Linked DNA regions of Homo sapiens: region 1 is linked to region 2. Evidence: fine-mapped expression QTL. Tissue or cell type: whole blood. Region 2 holds a variant in brackets; the other region holds the start of a gene. All regions are shown on one strand. Distances are from middle to middle.

Region 1 (8,098 bases), 120 kb before region 2:
AAAAAACAAAAAAAAAGTAAAGAGAAAAAAACATGTTATTTTTAATGGCATCTGCTTGGGCAAGAAAACTTAAACATATAAATGCTAAACCATTTTCAAATGTACTAACTCTCTAATAATGATAGTAAACAGAAGTTTTCTGTTAATCTCTATGATTTCTAAAAGTCAAAACTGTACCTTCACCATAGAACTCCTGGGACAAACTCAAATATGAACCTTCTTAAGAATTCCACATTGATCTTGGTCCTCCTGCTATCATCTTTGTGACCATAAGTAAGTCAATTCACCTAAGTTTTAGTTTTCTTACCCATAAACGGTACTTCTAAACTAATTAATATTTAAATTCTTTATCAGAAGGAAACATACATCAATCCCCAATGTAAATTGCAGATCCATTAATAATATTTAAGATCACTATATTCTTTCTTATCATTCTTCCAAACATAAAAACACTACTTGTCTGTATATAAAGAGGAGGAGTAGAAAGAGAAGATTGTTAAAAGGAACAGAAACTAGGTTGGTTTTGTTAACTAGGTTCCCCCTCTGAAACCACGAGACAGTATTAGCATCTCCTGAAATTTATTCAATACCCTGTTTTAAAAACAGAATGGTTGGTTTCCCCATGTCAAGACATACCCTTTCATAAAATGGGACAAGTCAATTTCTAGGAATGTATCTTTCAGCAGCTGTAATACTAACAACTAAAGGGGCGGGGGGGCGGCAAACAAAAGAGCATAACATAGATGACATGAGTCTACTGTCTAGGGAGAAAGAAAAGCTCTTCCCTATATGATGCCTTCAGAAAAGAGAGCAACAATGGGCTCTGTACCCGCCAGCTTCAGGAGGCACATGCCTGTAGGCAAATTATCTTATGTGTTGGGAATTTACATGGTAAGATGCTTTCTATGTTTTACAGCATATGTTTTCCTTATGAATGACTTCATTCACCCCCTTCATTAATTCAACAGCTATTTACTGAGCACTTACTTTATGCAAACCATAAAGCTAAAAAAAAAAAGTTATGAGCTTACAATTAGAATATTCAAGTAAGCCCTGACATGTACCTTACAGTACTTTAACCCCTCAGAATATTTTCAAGTCAAACAGTAAACTAAACAATATACTGTAGATGTTAAGCTAAAACGCACTTGTTAAGTTTCATTCCTTTGATGAAGTGGCATGTAGTAAAGGGGGGAAGGGATAAACTAAAGGTGAAAGAGTAATTAGCTAGGTCTCTTAGGTGATGTGGGGTACAAAGGTCTCCTTCCTCTAGAGAAAATGATAACATTGGATTACAAACACATTGGTAAACATCACAAAATGCTAAAGTTGGAAAGAAAAAACATAATTTCATACAAACGTTTTGTTTTATATGTGAGACACTTGAGACTTGGAAGTGATATGATGGCCCAGGTCATACGGCCAAATGTAGTCCCAGAACTAGAACCCAGGTCACTGGGGGCATGCTTAACAGTCCTTTGTGTATTGCAGTTTCCATGATGTGTCCTCATTGCTATCAGAACTGAAATGATGGCAGAATACACAAAGCAATGGACTGGACATCAGAAGATCCAAGTTCTAGTCTTGCAAATGCCACTAAATGAGATGTAAATCCATGGAAAACTCCCACTGCTTGTCTAAACCTCAGTTTCCTCATCTGTAAAATGTAAACAGTAATTTACAGTGAGACTATGCAGACCACAATAAATGCAGAAGAACTCTGCCATTTAAAAAACCACCTTATATAAGTACAGAGCAGGCACCTGGTTATGACAGAAAACCTAACTGTGATTCTAATACCAGCACTTGTTACCTTGATAAATCTCTGAATCTGTGAGCCTCATGTTCCTTCTGTGTTTACATGGTAAAAAGTCTTTGCCCTGCCTCCCTCAGAAATGTTTGGAATTAGGTGAGAACACTCAAAAGAATTTACAAATTGCAAGACACTGATGCAAATGTAAGGTGTTATTATTAAATCTCTCTAGTCTTAACGTGGACAAAAATGTAATGTGGTTCTATCATTTAGTGCTTCACAGTTTTCCTTCTCAGGTAAGATGTCATCATACATCAGTCTCAAACTCACCAGCTTTCTCATCAGTCCTCATAAGTCTCTGCCCACAGGACCATATCAGAACCACCGTTTCCCTCCGCTCAGAGATCACACATGAAACTCACTCAACCTCCCACTGGTTTACACTTGGCCGATTAAGGTTTTTTCCCAGCGTCTCCTTTCAGCTGGGAATGCTCTAGCAAAGCTTCCATGAACACTACCCTACTTCATCACATTAGAGTCCTAATGAAACCCATCCTTACTTCATCACATTAGAGTCCTAATGAAACCAATCCTTTCGCCTTTCTCCACTCCAACAGCTGCAGAACGCTTCAGTCTCTTCGCAGAACAGGGGAGAAGTCTCTGGCTGAATGTGCTTCATTAGAGGGACAAAAGGGGTTCCCCAAACCGAGACTCAGAAGTACTGACACAGAGACCGCTTCTTCCTTGCACGAGATTAACACATTCTGAGGTCCTACCGGTCCCTTAAGGATCATTCCCCTTAAAGCTAGGGCCTCCTGCATCTGAGAATGTCACAGAGAGGTAGTGATGATAGTGGGTGTTATTTCTGATCTGTAACACGCTCCCTTTAAAAAAGCATCAGAGTAACTAGGATTGCCTTGTTCGGAGCCCTGATTTCAGTAGATTCGATGAAAGAATTAATCAATCTACCCAAATAACTTCTCCGGAATAGGTTTCTACTCAGCCACGCTGGGCACCAGACAAGAGAGCTGGGGGTTGGGGGGGATAAGAAATGACAACACGCTCATCTGCATAGATGCCAGATAAGCAGACATTTGTTTTCTTCTGTTCTGGCGACTCCTGGCACCGGCATAGTAAATCAAACCCGGGCATTCTCCCTCCCCAGTGCCCCTACACTCCCAGCCCCTGCCCCAGATGTTGAAGCGTCACGTTGACCAGGCTGGGGGAGAAAGCCTGGGAAACGCAGAAGTCTGTTGCTGCATTTAGACTGGAACCATACCGCACCTGTTCAATCCGGCACCAGCGCCAGAAATGAGCAGAACACCAACTCGCAAGCCCCTCTTGAGATACCAGGGCGCCTAACAAGTTCACCGCTGTTTCGTACCGGGGGAGGGTGGTGGGAGACCTTTCCTTCCGCTGCCAAACTCTGCAGGTTCCCCGGAAAAGGGGAGAGTACTCCTATTTAAGTGAACCCAGAGTGATCTCCGAGTGTCACTGCGGCCCCGGGGATCCGGGTGACGAGCGGGTGGGTGTCCGTTGGGAGCGCGCAGCTGTGGCCCCCGCGGAACGAAGGTCCGCTTCGGTGGCCACGGGCGCCCTCTCCACGTCACCCCCAGCACAACGCAGACAGGCAAAGTGGAAGGGTAGAGAGACCGACGGGTTTCAGCAGAGATGCAGAGCCCCTAAGCGCAAGCCCCTCAGAAGGGTCTAGTGGGAAGGGGCCGGGGACGCACAGGAAACTTACCTCACCCGGGCAGCATTCGGGTGCCTCCGCTACCAAGACCAGTTGCGCCACAGTCTGCAAGTTATCGGGACGTTGTCGCTTCCCCACAGCGAAGGGAGAGCAGTGCAGGCGAGGGGCGGGAGGGGCGGGAGGGGCGGGAGGGCGGAGGGGGCGGCGGGCGGGGCCGGGGCCGGGGGCAACGCTGAGGGCGGGCAGGTGCCGGGGCTGGAGCCGCGGGGCCAAACTCGCTCCGGACGCGCCTTGGCGGGGGCGCGCGGCTACGAGTGTGCAGTGCGCGCGCGCCGCGGCGAGTGTGTGTGTCCCCGCTTTCCCCTTCCTTCCCCGCCGGTCCTCCGGCCAGACGGAGCAGCGAGCGGCCGCCAAAGCCCAGCAGCTCCGAGCGGCTCCACTGCCGGGCGCAGCCTCGCCGCGGCGCGTTCGGGGACCGGGAACCGGGGACCGAGAGGAGCAGCAGCGGCGCCCGCCGGGCTCGGGCGCGGGTTCCCGCTTGGTGCGCGCCGGAGTCGGAGCGAGGCGCAGAGAGAGCCGGCTGCGCGGCGGCTGCCGCGGCTGGGGAGGCTGCAGGCCCCGCCTGCCGGCCGCCCAGGCTCTTCCCCTTTTCTCTCCACCCACTTGCCCCATCCCCGCAAGCCCTGCAGCGAAGGCAGACCGGTTTGCAGCACCTGCCGCAACAGCGGCCGGAGCTTCAGCCGCAGTGGGCTGGGCGTCTCAGCCGGTGTGTGGGGACCGGGCGCCTGTCCCGCCGCCGCTGGCCCAGACTGAGAGCGGGGTTGGGGTGGGCCCCTGGAATTGGCGGGTGCCTCCAAGACTCCAGGGGTTCCCGGCCGTTCTCAGCGTCTTGAAGCCCTGCGAAACAGGGCTGTGGGGATAGGGCGTCCCCTTTCCCCAGGCCACAGAACTCAGCTACGCCTGGTCGCCCGCCTGCTAGACTCTGCCTGAGGCGGCGAAGCCGGCACTTGAGCGCAGGCGCCCCCTTCACGAGGAAGGGACAGGCCAGGATTCCAAGGCGTTGGTTGCTCCCATTCTAAGGACAGCAGGTGTTCCCAGCAAGTAAGACCTACCCAACAGGTAGGGGTAGGCTGGCGAGGAGGTCCTAGGAGAGAGAAGCTGGGGGATGTCATGGGAAAGCGCTGTGACGGGGCTGAGGGCCAATTCCTACTGATAGCGCTTAGTGGGCTGGGGGCACTTGCAACGTCACCTGATGTCAGTCTAGCTGCGAAGAGGGTAGGGGTCAGATCTAAAGGACTCCTTTGGGAAAATGCTATCATGAAAGCTAAAGCTAAATTCACTTAATAGGAACCAAAAGGTAGCGGATCCTTCGCGGCTGAATTGAAGCAAATGGTATTTTTCAGCCTCATCACTTCCTTCCACTTACCCTTCTTTACCAAAAACAACGCCGGTGGAAAACGTGGGATACATTCTGTCTGGGGAATAACAACATTTCATGATCCTTATCTTCAGAGATCTCTGGCTTCCAGTTTCTGTTTGAAGGATACTCCCTTAGTTCTCTGCAAATGAACACCTCTTTTCAGTTTTGTAATCTCTTTGTTTCTCTCACCCCCCACCTTGAGTGAGTCTGCTATGGTTTAATATCAGCCTTGAATCAAGTGCAATAATTTCTTGATAACAGAAGTATCTATTTTTTTTTAGCTTTACTGAGCCATAATTGACAAATAAAACAAATATCTGTTATTCTTCAGCTGTTTTCCCAGCCTGCTTCTTGCAGATGTGGCTGGCCATTACTGAGAGATTTAAGGTATGGTTTGTTTAGAACCCTGTGACTTGGGTCTGGTTTTCTCCTGGCATCCTAGACGCTTCACAGCTCAGAGCAGGAGGAACATACATCTAGTCCAGCCCTCCCGCTTTACAGATGAGGAAACTAAGGTCTCAAGACATTAAGTAACCCAAGGACCAGAACACAGTTTCCCTGACTCTCAATCCCTGAACAATAACTAGCAGAAATATTGTATTAACAAAGTTCAAGATGGGGTGGATAGACCAGTGGTGGAGGACAGAAGAACCGATCAAAGAACCGTTCATCTGACTGGTACGAATCACTGTATAGGGGGCAGCATCATACCGCTGTAACTAGCAGGCTAGTTTGGAATCTGGGAATGGTAATCCCAGTCTCTCCTTTTCCTGCTTCTCAGACTTCAGCTATGAAATCCAGAGTGGAAAATGAATTTGCCTCCCAGGGAGGCGGTGGTAAGTGAAAGTGCAAAGTCAGTTTCTGGTAATGCAGGGGAGATGAAGACAGGTAAAGCCAAACATTGGATCAAAAGTGATCACGCATTACGTATAAATGTCCAAATACATGTATCCATACACATGACCCTTTTCCCATTAATGAGCCTGGTATTGAGCCACTTCTGTAAAGCCCAAAAGCAAACAGCCTTAGGTTTTCAGAGAGAAGTGTCCAACCAGACTGCCCACTGGCTATTTAGAGAGCTAACTTTATGAAGCAGGATTCTAAGGAACTCTACCAAGAGCCTTACGATTGCATTATTACTGTGAATTGATTAATGGAATGAATGACCATGTAGTATGAGACCTGGTATTTCTTCCTGATTCTATCTCCAACTCTATCAACAGGGATTTAGGAAAGTCATCCTGTATTGGAAATAATACAACAACATCAATATCATGAGCAATAGTGACTTGGCCAGAAATTCTGGAAACCTATTTAAAAATCAGAAAATATTCATCTAATTATTTTGCTTAATTTTAAATGTAATTTTTTCAATTGATTCCTGACCTCAGTCCAAAACTTTAATAATGCTATTGAATACTCCTCTAACTATGAGAAACATGCATGGGTTCCTAGTAGTACATTTGATAGTATTAGTGGCCCCCCAATAAATGACCTCCTTTTTTCTCCAAGGTCTTTCCCTCTAACCTTGTAGTCCACTCCTATTCTGGGCCCAACCGTATGATTTACTTTGACCAACAAGACAGTAGCCGGCTTGATGTAAATGAACGCTGGAAAAATGTTTACACATTTCTGTTTCCAGTCTTGGAATTCTGACATCACCAGAATAAGCCTGCTGGAAGATGAAAGACCCTGTAGAGCAGAGCTGAGTCATAACAGCTGAGGCATCCTTGACCAGTCAGCCCTCACTTGACTGTGGAGGCACAAGCAAGTCTGAATGAGATTGGCTAGGCTTGGTCCAGATCACCAGAACCACCCTCCCAACTCATAGATTCATGAGAAACAATAAATGGTTGCTGTTTAAAGCCACTGTTTCAGATATTGATTGCTGCTTAACAAACAATCCCAAAACTTAGTTGCCAAAATCATCAGTCATTTACTATTTTTCATGATTCAGTGGGTCAACTAAGCCTAGCTGAGTATTGCCTAAGGTCACTCATGGTTTTTTTGTTTGTTTTTGTTGTTGTTGTTGTTTGTTTGCTTGCTTTTGAGACAGGGTCTTGCTGTGTCACACAGGCTGGAACAGGCTGGAGTGCAATGGCATGATTACAGTTTACTGCAGCCTTGATCTCCTGGACTCAAGCAATCCTCCCACCTCCGCCTCCCAAGTAGCTGGGACCACAGGCATGCACCCCAACGCCTAGCTAATTGTTTTTATTTTTTTGTGTGGAGATAAGGTCTCACTGTGTTGCCCAGGATGGTCTCAAACTCCTAGCTCAAGCAACCTTCCAACCTCAACCCCTAAAGTGCTGGTATTACAGGTATGAGCCACTGTGCCTGGCCTAGGTCACTCATTTGACGGCATTCAACTGGCCACTGGCAGCCGGACTGAATTGGAAGGTTCAAGAAGGCCTCATTCACATATCAGGCACCTCAGTTCTCCTCCACATGACCTCTCTCTGTCCATCCAGCTGGCTTGGGCTTCCTCCCAGCAAGGTGGTTAGACTTCTTCTATGGCATCTTGCTTCCAAGAGGGAGGAATAGAAACTGCCAATTCTCTTAAGGGTTGAGTTTGGAAGTTCTAGAATGTTATTTCTGCTTCAGTCTATTGGTCAAAGCAAGTCACAAGGCCAGTCAGATTCAAGAGGAGGGGAAATAGACTCTGCCTTCTGACTTGAGGGGTACTGTGTTATGTTCAGGAATAAAAGAGCTGATAGCAGCCATTTTTTGAAGACTACTTCATCCACTACGTGTTTGGGTGCTTTGTGACACCACATCAGATCATCGATATATTCTTCTTAGCTACGCCACTTTGAACCAGTTACACATTCTTTCTGGACCTTTCTATGAAATGCCGGAGGTTGCATTTCTCTAAGTTGCTAATGCACATTTAGCATTTTTTTTTTTTTTTGGTGATGTCTCAAGAGCAACTGAAGTCCAATAAATATTCAGAGGGAACTTGAGGAACATTGGTGAGCTATGGATAGTTCCACCTGTTCATCTGTCCTTTATTTTTTTTCCAATGAGAAAAAAACAGGAATCCAGATGAAAGGCATGCATTGCATTCGTTGACATTGAAGAGTAGAGAAGTAGAGCCAGCATCCTTCCCAAATCTCTAGGGACCATCCTCCTGCCACATTGCCCTCTCTTTCTAGAAACTTCATGTCTAAGCAGACAAGAAAGGCTAAACGCTTAGCTGATGCCCCTGTATAACTTGAGACACTAATTTCAG
Region 2 (8,107 bases):
TGATGGAATGTATCTCAAAATAATAAGAGCTATTTATGACAAACCCACAGCCAATATCATACTGAATGGGCAAAAGCTGGAAGCATTCCCTTTGAAAACTGGCACAAGAAAAGGTTGTCCTTTCTCACTCCTATTCAACATAGTATTGAAAGTTCTGGCCAAGGCAATCAGGCAAGAGAAAGAGATAAAGGTATTCAGATAGAAAGAGAGGAAGTCAAGTTGTCTCTGTTTGCAGATGACATGACTGTATATTTAGAAAAACTCATTGTCTCAGCCCAAAATCTCCTTAAGCTGATAAGCAACTTCAGCAAAGTCTCAGGATACAAAATCTATGTGCAAAAATTACAAGCATTCCTATACACCAATAATAGACAGAGAGCCAAATCACGAGTGAACTCCCATTCACAATTGCTACAAAGAGAATAAAATACCTAGGAATACAACTTACTAGGGATGTGAAGGACCTCTTCAAGGAGAACTACAAACCACTGCTCAGGCAAACAAGAGAGGACACAAACAGATGGAAAAACATTCCATGCTCATGGATAAGAAGCGTCAATATAGTGAAAATGGCCATACTGCCCAAAGTAATTTATAGATTCAATGCTAACCCCATCAAGCTACCATTGACTTTCTTCACAGAATTTGAAAAAACTACTTTAAATTTCAAATGGAACCAAAAAAGAGCCCGTATAGCCAAGACAATTCTAAGCAAAAAGAACAAAGCTGGAGGTATCATGCTGCCTGACTTCAAACTATACTACAAGGCTACAGTAACCAAAACAGCATGGTACTGGTACTAAAACAGAGATATAGACAAATGGAACAGAACAGAGGCCTCAGAAATAATGCCACACATCTACAACTATCTGATCTTTGACAGACCTGACAAAAATAAGCAATGGGGAAAGGATTCCATATTCAATACATGGTGTTGGGAAAACTGGCTACCCATATGCAGAAAACTGAAACTGGACCACTTCCTTACACCTCATACAAAAATTAACTCAAGATGGATTAAAGACTTAAATGTAAGACCTAAAACCATGAAAACCCTAGAAGAAAACCTAGGCAATACCATTCAGGACATAGGCATAAGCAAAGACTTCATGACTAAAACACCAAAAGCAATAGCAACAAAAGCCAAAATTGACAAATGGGATCTAATTAAACTAAAGAGCTTTTGCACAGAAAAAAAAAAAAATCTATCATCAGAGTGAACAGGCAACCTACAGAATGGAAGAAAATTTTTGTAATCTATCCATCTGACAAAGGGCTAATATCCAGAATCTACAAAGAATTTAAACAAATTTACAAGAAAACAAACAAACAACCCCATCAAAAAGTGGGCAAAGGATATGAACAGACACTTCTCAAAAGAAGACATTTATATGGCCAACAAATATATGAAAAAAAGCTCATCATCACTGGTCATTAGAGAAATGCAAGTCAAAACCACAATGAGATACCATCTCACACCAGTTATAATGGTGATCACTAAAAAGTCAGGAAACAACAGATGCTGGAGAGGATGTGGAGAAATAGGAATGCTTTTACACTGTTGGTGGGAGTGTAAATTAGTTCAACCATTGTGGAAGACAGTGAGGCTATTCTTCAAGGATCTAGAACTGGAAATACCATTTGACCCAGCAATCCCATTACTGGGTACATACCCAAAGGAGTATGAATCATTCTATTATAAAGACACATGCACACGTATGTTTATTGCAGCACTATTCACAATAACAAAGACTTGAAACCGACCCAAATGCCCATTCATGATAGACTGGATAAAGAAAATGTGGCACATATATACCATGGAATACTATGCAGCCATAAAAAAGGATGAGTTCATGTCCTTTGCAGGGACATGGATGAAGCTGGAAACCATCATTCTCAGGAAACTAACATAGGAACAGAAAACCAAACACTGCATGTTCTCACTCATAAATGGGAGCTGAACAATCAGAACACATGGCCACATCCTTCCCACAGGGAAGGGAACATCACACACTGGGGCCTGTCAGGCGGTGGGGGGCTAGGGGAGGGATAGCATTAGGAGAAATACCTAATGTAGATGACAGGTTGATGTGTCCAGAAAACCACCATGACATGTATATACCTATGTAACAAACCTGCACGTTCTGCACATGTATCCCAGAACTTAAAGTATTAAAAAAAAAGTTTTCTGACTATACACCCTAAGCTTTAGATAAATCTAAATTTCCTTAAAAGTTTGAAGGGCCTATGAATACAGAATAGTTTCTTACTAACGCAGCAGTGAATATACATTTATTATTTGGAAAATGGCAGAGAATCACAACTCTTATCTACCTCAACTGTTTTTAAACATTCATAGAAATTTAATCTGTTAATAATTGAGTTTGGGAAGGCTGGAGCACTTAGAAAAATGGACTATTTTAGTGTCACAGGTGAGACAAAGAACAGGCTGAGAAGCTCAAGAATCGCTGCATTCCTCTTACTGATTACAGAAAAACAAGAGATTCAGTGCTGCTAAAATTGGCTTCAGAATCATTTTCACGACAACCCATACATCATCCCAGAATTTCCTGAAAGAACATCTTTAGGTTATGATTGAAGTCAAGTATGATTCTTTCAAAGGTTTCCCTTTAAGAAATTTTATTAGTAAAAGTAAGGTTAAGAAACATATGTAAATATACAGTATATGTATAGTACATAGTATAGTATACATACATACATATAGTATATGTTTTGTTACTATATATACACTATATATATGTAGTAACAAAAGGAGTGTACTCTGATTCTCACCCATAATGTTTCTATAGATGTATCATTTTGGCTTAGATGAAAGCGAGCAATCAAAAAGATGAATCACTCTATCTCTTCCTTAAAAATAACTCTTTAAAGTGCTAATAAATGCTTATTTAATAAGTCTGTATATACATATATAAAATGGGAGAATAATATATTGAAGGAATTTGTGTTTATCTTATTAACGTGGAATGGTAAAAATTCTTTTAGTGTATGATAATAGTGTAAAAAAGTTCCAAGACTGGGTCTTTTTTAATACCAAAAAAAGATATAAAGTGCATGTGTTGGCAAACTTAAAAAAAAATTACACATGTAATACATGGTTGGGTAGATAAAATGTGAAAATACAGATAAACCAAATGGAGGGAAAAATGAGAAATATTTAATATTACTTATAATTGTACCATCCAGGAATAATCATTTTAGGATATATCTGTCAGACTTTTAAAAATGTATGTATACACACATATATTACACAAATGGGGTCATGCTGTTTTAGAACCTATTTTTTTAAACTTAGCAACATATTGCGACTGTCCATCTATGTCAATGTACTCCTCAGCATCATTTAAAGGAGTGGTCCCCAACATTTTTGGCACCAGGGACTGGTTTCATAGAAGACAATTTCTCCAGGGATGATGTGGGGGATGGTTTTGGAATGATTCAAGTGCATTACATTTATTGCACACTTTGTTTCTCTTATTATTACATTGTAAAATATAATGAAATAATTATACGACTCACCATAATTTAGAATTCGTGGGAGCCCTGAGCTTGTTTTCCTGCAACTAGACCGTGTCATCGGCGGTGGGGCGGGGGTGGGGGGGTGGGTGACGGGAGACAGTGACAGATCATCAGGCATTAGTTAGATTCTCATAAAGAGCACGCAACCGAGATCCCTTGCATGCGCAGTTCACAATGGGGTTTGCACTTCTATGAGAATCTAACATCACTACTGATATAACAGGAGGTGGAGCTCAGGTGGCAATGCCAGCAATGGGGAGCGGCTGTAAATACAGATGAAGCTTCGCTCGCTCGCCCACCACTCATCTCCTGTGTGTAGCTCTGTTCCTAAAAGGCCACGGACCCATACCGGTCTGCAGCCCGAGGGTTGGGGACCCCTGAAAAATGATCGCTTATTATTCCATGTTGAAGTACATCTTAAACCTTCTCCAATCCCCCACTACTGTCTATATAACAACCTGAAGTGTATCCATTCAAGGAATGTGTTCTTGGCCACAAAAACAGGGTGCTTGAAAAACAAATCCCAGCAGAATCATTCTTGTCCTTACGTTAATCACTACAGGGCTATTTTCAGAGCACTCCAGTGGAGCATACCGCAGTCTTCCAAAAGGGTCTTTAGGTGGTGCTATTGGATGGAACGGTTCCTTCGGAAGAGAGATGATTCATTTGCTTGGGGGTGGGGGGTGGGGGCACATCAACCCCGACTTGATTCCTCCTGTTATCTTTGGATATTCTGTATTAACTCCAATTCCCTCAAAAAGAAGTGGCAAGGATCGATCTTTAGCAGTTGTTCGTGACCTACATGCATTCTTGAAACAAGGCACACTTTAATAGGTTTAATGTTTCCTGCAAACTGTTGTGGATAGACTGAGCAGAACAAAATGCCTTTTCTGCTGGGTAAAGAGTACCTGGCACCCCCTCCCTGCCCCCCAATCCCCCCACCTCCCGCCAAAGTCACCTGCTTACGTCAGACCAGCCCTGATGCGATGGAAATGCTGAACTGAAGTGTGCTCCCATGGTTTGAAGAGCACATTTTTCACTGGCATCATGCACACAGGACAAAGCATGTCTCTTAGATGAAAGCATCTTTAAAATGACATAAACAAATACAAATTGGAATCTCAGAATGCAGTTTAAGGACCTCACTGCCCCCCTCTAGTGGTCATGTCGAGTTTCATCGGGTCTCTTGACCACAGACCGGGTCCTGTCCTAGGAATTCTGGCGCC[C/T]TCTTGTGGAGGGCAGGAGGAGGTCTTTGTAGACCGGCAAAGACCAGCGGGGCCTGCGTGAAAGATGCTAAAGACGAATTACCTCCTCTCCCTCAAAGATTCCCTAAAAGCAGAATCGAGTCAATTCTCATTCATTCTTTTAGGGCTGTATGTCTTTTAAAAATGCATTGCATTCTTTGCTGCCTGCTTGGAGTACAATGACCGACATTAACCATTTTCTCAGAGATTCAGATTTTTCCTTTTAAAAAATTGGCTCCGGCCCCATGAAAAACAGCTGTAAATGCTCAGAAGCTGCTGAGATCTGATCACAGTTCTACTTTTTTTTCCACTATGAAGCCTGCATGCGAACTCCCTGCAGCCTGCAATGCTTTCTGGGTTTTCATTTCTGTTTCCATTTTCACCTTTTCCCTCATTGTCTTGCTGCCAGTCTCTAACACCACTCCTGACCTCTTCCTTCCTTCTAACCTGCTGTGGGATCAGAAGTGAGGTAACAAAGCTTGCTATAATTCTAATTTATCAACAGAATAAACAGACCCCCGTCAATACTGGAAATGCTCTCCCCTTTGCAAAATACGAAATGTCTTTTCTAAATACACGCATGCCTTTTAGTGCCTATGTAATCCTTATCCAGTGAGTGGGAAAGAGTTAAAAGAATGAAAGTGTTAAAAAGAAATTTCTCTAGGACGGGCAGCTGATCCTGTGAGCGGGGAGCTTTGGAGGCAGCCCTGGTTTCTTTCTTTCTTTCTTTCTTTCTTTCTTTCTTTCTTTCTTTCTTTCTTTCTTTCTTTCTTTCTTTCTTTCTTCCTTCTTCCTTCCTTCTTTCTTTCTTTCTTTCTTTCTTTCTTTCTTTCTTTCTTTCTTTCTTTCTTTCTTTCTTTCTTTCCTTCTTTCTTTCTTTCCTTTCTTTCCTTTCTTTTCTTTTTTTTTGAGACGGAGTCTCACTCTTGTTGCCCAGGCTGGAGTGCGGTGGTGCGATCTTGGCTCACTACCACCTCCGCCTCCTGGGCTCAAACGATTCTCCTGCCTGTGCCTCCGGGGTAGCTGGGATTACAGGCGTGCACCACCACGCCCAGCTAATTTTTGTATTTTTAGTAGAGACAAGGTTTCCTATGTTGGCCAGGTTGGTCTCAAACTCCTGGCCTCATGTGATCCGCCCGCCTAGGCCTCCCAAAGTGCTGGGATTACAGGCGTGAGCCACCGTCCCCTGCCTGATTTCATCTTTGCCTCCTTGGCCTGGTTTCTGCTCCCTGGGCTGGAAGCGCTGTCCCCTGGTGGTGGGGAGGGCCGTGTGCTACATAGGACTGAGGTTTCAGAAAAAAAGTTCTGCAGGTGTGGATAAACAGAATGCTAAGCGGATATTGCCCAGGACAGCATAAGTGGAGGAGAATCTCAACCAGAGTCAAGGTTGTGTATGTCTGTAACCAAGGGTGCAAATGTCAAGGTGAGAAGTGGTAATGCGGCACCTGGAGATCGCGGCGGGTGATCCAGGACAGGGCAGTGGGAGTTAGATAGAATGGTCATGTTTTTTTTCCTAATAAGCTATTTATTTACTTTTGGCAAATAAAAATTGCATACCTTTACAGTATACAACATGATGTCTTAATGTATGTATATATTGTGGTATAATTAAATAAGTGGTTTAACATATTCATCACCCCCACATAGCTATTTTTTTGTGGTGAGAATATTTAAAATCTATTCTCTTAGCCATTTTCAAGTATGCAATGCATTGTTATTAATTATAGTCACCATGCTGTATAATAGATCTCCATAACCTATTCCTCCAGTCTAACTGAAACTTTGTACCCCTCTCAACTATTCTTGACCTCTGGCAACCACCATTCTACTCTACGCTTCTGTGAGTTTGACTTTTTGAGAGTCCATACACAAGGGAGATCAAGAGTGGTCCTATTTTAATGTGGTGCTGGCTTTGTTGCATGGAAATAGGCTGTTACTTGGGCAGAGACAGTGGGATGGGGGATATTTGTAACAGAAAAAGTTCTCAGATTGAGATGTTTTGTTCCTTAAGGAAATCATCTTCAGACAGGGCTCTCCTGTAGTGTTAAATGGAATCCTACAAAACACCAGTGTTCCATGAGTTGTCAGTAGGTGGTCTATAAAAATTATTTTCTATATTCAGGTAACTTTTGGCAATTACACACCATATGTGCTGAAAAGCTTGTTAACCAGCGCAGACCCATACTCTGCCCTTCTTCTCCCTGGACCCCCTGCCAGGTCACCTTGTTCTGGTTCCATCTCTTGATCAAAGGCTGTAACTTCAGTCAGGCTGACTTCTCTCTGGAGGGGTTTCTGGTACCCTGCTGGTGCTAGTGCTGGGGCGTTGCACTCCTCTTTGTGATTTCCCTATATCCTGCCCATACCTTTATAAACAATATTTTTACAAAACTATTCTCGAATTACCCAAAGTGAGTATGCCATCTCCTGGCTGACACACCATATGTTTCATTAGAGAAACGTGATGCCCAGTAGCATTTTAAAATACATTAATCATATTGGTTAATTTGTTCATAGTGGCCTCTTCTACTGGAACACAATCACAGTGCCTGGTGCATAGAAGGTGCTTGTCTTAGATGGGGTTTTCTTAGGAGCAGACACTTAACCAAAAATGTGGGTGCATATGATTTATTAAGGAAGTGCTTCCTGGAGAAACTGCTAAGGGAGTGGGGAGGCAGGGTGGAGTAGAGGAAGAAGCCAAGCAATTGAGCAATGCCAGGAGAAAGTCCCAGTCTCAGCCTGATCCCATGGGGCACACTGAGGCATAGCTGGTTTTTTTTGTTGTTGTTGTTTATTTGTTTTTTGACATGCAGTCTCGCTCTGTTGTCCAGGCTGGAGTGCAGTGGCCTGATCTCGGCTCACTGCAACCTCCACCTCCCGGGTTCAAGCAATTGTCCCACCTCAGCCTCCTGGGTAGCTGGGATTATAGGCACCCGCCATCATGTCCAACTAATTTTTGTATTTTTGTAGAGACGGGGTTTCACCGTGTTGGCCAGGCTGGTCTCGAACTCCTGACCTCATGTGATTTACCTGCCTTGACCTCCCAAAATGCTGGGAATACAGGCATGAGCCACTGTACCCGGCCTTAGCTGGCATTTTGAATGTCCCCTCCCACAACATCCGTCCATCATTGGTGGCAGAGACCAGGGACCCTAGGGTGGGTCATAAACTCCCAGGCACTTCAACTCTCTAAATGGACAAAGTAGCTTCAGTAGCCACAGTCAAATCTCTGAAAGAGGGCAAAGCTGCAAGTAGTTAGCTTCAGAGCCCACAGAAGCTGGGGTGTGGGCACAGAGAACCAAGGGGGAGTGGGATCTGGGAAGGTT

Evidence for each region. PIP is the estimated chance that this variant, and not a neighbour inherited with it, causes the effect.
Region 1: it holds the start of PIP5K1B, and the variant in region 2 is fine-mapped to the expression of PIP5K1B in whole blood (TOPMed, PIP 0.97).

Annotation. Positions count from the first base shown.
Region 1 is chr9:68,701,162-68,709,259 of GRCh38, reverse strand. It overlaps PIP5K1B (phosphatidylinositol-4-phosphate 5-kinase type 1 beta), which reads right to left and starts at 4,020. Exons shown (of 16, transcript NM_003558.4): 1 at 3,498-4,020. RefSeq lists enhancers at 2,203-2,352, 2,803-2,892, 3,581-4,506 and a silencer at 3,643-4,162.
Region 2 is chr9:68,581,257-68,589,363 of GRCh38, reverse strand. The region is part of intron 2 of TMEM252-DT (TMEM252 divergent transcript); the gene reads right to left. Among named protein-coding and RNA genes, the nearest start is that of LINC01506, 39 kb to the right of the region's middle. RefSeq lists an enhancer at 4,621-4,710. The variant C/T (reference allele first, on the strand shown) is at 4,767.